Regions from separate parts of the Homo sapiens genome. Here region 2 is linked to region 1. The links come from fine-mapping of genetic effects on gene expression. A gene starts in region 1. The other region holds a variant in brackets. All regions are shown on one strand. Distances are from middle to middle.

What was found.
Region 2: its variant is fine-mapped to the expression of IFNGR1 in whole blood (TOPMed, PIP 0.98).

What each region holds. Positions count from the first base shown.
Region 1 is chr6:137,218,208-137,221,131 of GRCh38, forward strand. IFNGR1 (interferon gamma receptor 1) reads right to left here and starts at 1,178. Exons shown (of 7, transcript NM_000416.3): 1 at 1,036-1,178. The coding sequence starts at 1,120. RefSeq lists silencers at 359-408, 869-1,088, 1,129-1,358 and enhancers at 818-1,548, 1,399-1,648.
Region 2 is chr6:137,194,867-137,197,790 of GRCh38, forward strand. IFNGR1 (interferon gamma receptor 1) reads right to left here. Exons shown (of 7, transcript NM_000416.3): 7 at 2,619-2,924. Among named protein-coding and RNA genes, the nearest start is that of IL22RA2, 23 kb to the left of the region's middle. The variant A/T (reference allele first, on the strand shown) is at 1,488.

The DNA.
Region 1 (2,924 bases):
TACTCCAGAAGATTGTTGTGAACACAGAACCAAAACGTGGACCTTTCAAAGTCCCTATGAATCATAAATCATAATAAAAAAAAGAAAACTGAATTGAAAAGGTTTACTGTTTTCTCTGGAGCTCGTAATCACAATTACTCTGCACTTCAGAAAAGCCACCCTCAACATTTGTTTTCTAGGAAATGTCAATAAGCAGGTGGAAATAAAATGCTCCGAAGAACAAACCCGTACGAAGAGACCTACTGCCAAATCTGCTAGTGAGTGCCGGCAATCCACCACTTCCAGACTGAGACCTAAGACGGACTGCCACTTACTTCTCAGCTGCCACTTACTTCTCAGCTGGCGACATAATGCATACTTTCCTACCCTAAGCACTTTGAGTCCCCCCCCCCACCCCCGCTAAGAAAGAAGTATTTAAGCCACGAACTGAGACCACGATGCCACATGCTGATCAGGACACTCACAGTCATGCGTCACTTAACGATGGAGATCCGTTCTGAGAAATGGAGAAATGTCCCCTTAGGCAATTTCTTCGGGCAGTAGAAACCCAGACAAACCCAGATGACACAGCCTACTGCTCTTAGGTCATGAACCTGTACAGCCTGTCACTGCACTGAACACTGCAGGCAACCGTAGCATACTAGTGAGTATCTGCGTATCTAACCATAAAAAAAGGTACAGTAAGAAGACGATATTATAATCTTTGAGACCACGCTGTCCCACATTGACCAGCAACGTCCTTCTGCAGCGCATAATCGTATTTAAAAGTGGATTACAAGAGTCGGAAAAACAAGCGGCGTGATTTGTTGTGGCGGCAACCAGGGAAGAGGCAGGAGAAAGGCAACCGACGAGTTCAAACCACGGAGCCCCAGTCTCGCGACCCCACCTCGCGTCCCCGTCGCCCGCTCAGGGCCCGACGCAGGGGTCCCGGGCTAGGGCGACCTCGGAGAAGCGGGGCGGGGCTTCCCGGCTGGGGCGGATCCCTCCCTCCCTCTCGTCCCGACCCGGCCGCAGCCCTGCCGCGAACGACGGTACCTGAGGACGGCCCCAGATCCGCGGTGCCCATCTCAGCCCTGCTCACACCCTGCATGACAAGGGGTAGGAGAAAGAGGAGAGCCATGCTGCTACCGACGGTCGCTGGCTCCAACCCCGAGCGCCTGCGGGACCAGCCCAGCACTGCCCTCCAGCCCCGGCCTTACGTCACTTCCGTCACCGGGGTCTGTGCCGGCGTCGGCAGGAGGCGGGACCAGGGCGTGGGCGGGGTCAAGTCCGGGAAGCCGCAGGAGGCGGACTCAGGCGCAGCACCCAGCAGTGAGCACGGCGTCGTGCGGTCGGGACCTGGACTTCTGGGTGTGGGAGGAATTTGAGTGCAAAGGTTAAGGTCTTTCAACCTGGCACCCCATTCTGCAATTCTTCTTCCAGTTTTTTTCGGTTTCCTGGGGTTGTGCAAGTTTGCATTAGGCCACAGCCGAGCCACAATCCTTATTTTACTAACTCTTGGACTTCACCTGGTTGTCTTGGAGCCTGACATTTTTAGAAGAGAATGAGACTTCAAAAGCCATTTCCAGTCCCTGCTTTTTCATTTGAGGAACCTGAGACTTAGCTAGTGAAATGGTTTGTGCAGATTCCCACAGCCCAAATCAAATCGGCTTGACCAAGAACTACTTTGTTCTTGGAGAAAAAAACTATTTGCATTACCTTCTCAGCAATTCAGTGTCAAATCAGTTTATCAGGCAGCCTCTCATGAAGAGGTCTGCTCTCTTACCTCTCTGGGTTTGTCTGTTATTTTGCATCTCTCCTATTCCACTGCAGCCACATTGCTAAGTCCTTCAGCGCTTGTGCTCAAACATGCGAATGTCTAATGATCTCACCTGTTTCAATTCTCTGAGTATCATGAACTTTTGTTAAAAATTTTAAATTGCAACACACCTTCTCCTCCTCCTTACCCCGCCCTACTGTTTTTTCATGGCACTTTTCACCTTGCTGTACACTATAATATACACCTTGATATTTGTTTTCTTCTCCTTCTAAAATGTAAGCTCCGTAGAGCTGACATCTTTACTTGGCACTCAATTAGTATTTGTTGAGTGAAAGACTGCATGATTACTAGTGTTAAGGAAAATTTTTAAAGAGGGAAAATCCTTATAAAGACACTATATAAACTAGAGGTATTATCAGCCAGATCATTTTACTTGTATTAATAAATCTCTTAGCTCAGTACTTCTCAAACTTCAACATACATGTGAACCATCTGGGGATCTTGATAAAATGCAGATTTGGATTCAGTAGTTCTAATTCAGGTTGGGTCTTGAGATTTTGTATTTCGGACAAAATGCACAGGGGATGCTGGTGCCCCTTTCAACAGGACCACACTTTGAATCAGAAGAATTTAGCTCAATCTAGACTAAGTTTAGGGAGAATATTTCCTTTGATGTGTTTCTGATGTCCACTATATGAAAGACACCTTCTAGTCGTTGTAAGGATGCAAGGATAAATAACTGATCTTTACCGTTTAGGCGTCTATGGAGTAGGACAAAATATGATATCCAGTTTGTAAACATTTTTGTGGTACTTGTCACAGGCTGGGTTACCCTGGCAGTAAACTCTGAGGTCGAGATTAAGGTATAAGGCATTGATTGATTAGGGAGTGCTCTTGGAATAAACGTCTGTGAAGGGGAGGTGGAGGAAGCAGAGCGGAGGAAGAAGTTGATCTGTGATGCCATCCCAGTAAAGGCTCCCAAGGGGCGCTCTGGAGTTGGGATGGCCTTGTAAAGGTGTCTTGAGTTGGTATGAGGGGCTGGGTCTTAAAGCCCAGCACTGATTAGTCATTGAATACCAACTGTCATGATTTTGGGGCTGTCCATTTCTTTCATGGAGGCATTCCCCAGAGGAACGCTGACGGTTGAGGGTGTCTACTGGCAGCC
Region 2 (2,924 bases), 23 kb before region 1:
TGTAAGACTTGAAGACAGAAATAGTCTCCATTCTTGCAGAACATTCAACCCTTGAAAATATTAGTTATTTCTAAACATTTTATAAAGTCAAAACAATGCCAACATAAATCCCAAAGGAGTTTAAAATTTGGGGGAAAACTTGGCCAAAAAATTTAGGTTATAGTTCACCTAAAAAATAATTATTGCTGGCAGGGCGCAGTGTCTCACACCTGTAATCCCAGCACTTTGGGAGGCCGAGGCAGGCAGATCATGAGGTCAGGAGATCGAGACCATCCTGGCTAACATGGTGAAACCCTGTCTCTACTAAAAATACAGTAAGTAAATAAATAAATAATTATTGCTAAGAAATATGAGCAATGAACATTGGCTGAAAGTATTCAGGAAAGCCTCAGAAGTCAAAACAGCCTGTAATTGCAGCACTTTGGGAGGTTGAGGTAGGCAGATTGCTTGAGCACAGGCATTTGAAGCCAGCCTGAGCAACATGGCAAAACCCTGTCTCTACAAAAAAATACAGAACATTAGCCAGGTATGGTCATGAGCGTCTGTACTAGCTACTTGGGGGGCTGAGGCAGGAGTGTTGCTTGATTACAAGAGGTTGAGGCTGCAGTAAGCCATGTTCGTGCCACCGCACTCCAGCCTGGGTGACAAAGCTAGACTCTGTCTCAAAAAAACATAAAATATATCCCAGTATAATGTGTATTAAAAGTGTGATACATAGACGGGAAAAGACTGAACAACAAAACTGTTCCAGGAGTGCTGAGAATTTGGCATGTGATAAATGTGACATTTGAAATCAGCATAGAAAAGTTAGATAATTTAATGAATAGTATTTGGGATAACTAATTTGTTAAGGGAAATATATGAGTTGAGTTGTATCCTCAAAAAGATGTGTTGAAGTCCTAACCCCTGGTACCTATGAATGTGATCTTAACTGGAAAGTGTCTTTACAGATGTAATCAAGTTAAGAGGAGGTCATACTGGATTAGAGTGGGACTAATCAATCCAATTGACTGGTGTCCTTATAAAGATCTGGACACAGACATACAGAGAAGAATGCCAGGTGACAAGAGGCAGAAATTGGAATAATGCAGCCATAAGTCAGAGAATATCAAGGATTGACAACAATCACTAGAAACTAGGAAGGGGCCCTCCACCCCTAGAGCTTTCAGATAGAATCTGGCCCTATTGAAACCTTGATTTCAGACCTCTAGCCTCTGAACTGTGAGATAACAAATTTCTGTTGTTTTAAGCCACCCAAGTTTGTGGTAATTTATTACGGCAGCCACAGGAAACTAAAACAAAAAAATAAAGCTGGATCTCTATCTCTGTCCTCAAAGGAAAAAAATCTAGATGGATAGAAGAATTAAATGTAAAACAATCATCACCAAAGACCAGAAGAAAACATGAGTGAAAACTTCTATCTTTTGGGGAAAGGGGAAGGGCTTTTTAAAAATAGAAGGAAATAAATAAATTTGACTTTATAAACA[A/T]CTTAAACATCTGTGTGGTAAGTCAAAAGGCAGGAAATTATAAAATAAATCTGTAACTCAGGGCAGATAAAGGGTAGTAAGAAAGATATAAACAGCCCATAAAAAAATGGACAAAGAACAAGATGAGTTGGCATGAAACTATAAATAAGATATAAAAACATGCTCAAATTTACTAAAGAAATGCAAATGCATTTAATGTGTAAAGTGTTTTACCGAGATTAAAGACTTATTTCAGTCAATTAGCTAGGGTGTAAAAACAGGTACTTCATTCACATTTGATGGGAGTACACATTGGTATAATCATTTTGGAGGGTAGTAAGTATTACCTCTTCCTTGGCTATTTCAATTATTTTCATATTTTTGCTTTTCCCATTCTAATGTGTGCATTGTTCATGTAGTTTTTTTTTTTTTTTTGTAATTTTCCCACAAGAGAGATCAAAGTCTGTTGAAGGATATTACTTTTGTGGAATGTGATATGTATGGGGTATCAGTTTGAAAAGCAATTTACAAGACATTACCCTAAAATCAGTGACTATACCAGTTCCACTGCAAACCACACCACTACTTTTTTCACTGATAGTATCTCATTTGTAATTTGCATTTTTAAGTGAAGAGAAATATCTTTCCAGAAACCAAAGAAATGTGATTTGCTACTCATGTAAATTGTATTTCATTTTTTTTGGTCCATTAATTCACAGATTCATATTAATTTCTGAATATTTCTATCCTCTTAGTAATTCCAAGAAATCCTTGGGTAACATATATATTAACTCTTGGTTTGCCTCTCACTGGGGATTCTTTCCACACCATGTAATTCTCAAGGTTCCATCCATTTCCATGGCTCTGCCCACCACCTTTATGCTAGATTCCTCAATCCACATGCTCTACAGCTAAATCTTTTCTTCTCAAACCACTTAGAACAGTGTTCTGCACACTGGGTGTTAAGCACTGAAATATAGACCTATAAGGACCATTTAAAAATATTATTTTTAGGGTTGTTTTAAATATTAAATATGAACAATTAGCAAATAATCCTATAGCATTAATGCATGGAAACAAGCAGTGGATATAAAAATATTCTGCTTAACTATGAAAGACTGCCTAAGTGCTTGAATAAATGAATACAAAAACGAGTTTTAAAATTCTTTATTTAAAAATCTCTAACTGTAATGTTTCATAAAAAATATACACGTTTCTATTTACATATTCCATTAATTCTATTAGTTTGAATTAGATTTTAAGTCCAATTTTGAAAAGCTTGCAGAATTTCTTCTGAAATTACTTAAAATTACTGTATGCATAAACTTACAAAAACATATGCTATACCAAGGCAGAGAAAAGAAAAAAAGTGAAGTGGCTACAAAGGTCCCTGGGGCATCACCTGCTCACCTAGGAACCAGGAGTACTGGATACTGTTCCGTTACTGGTAACCTATCT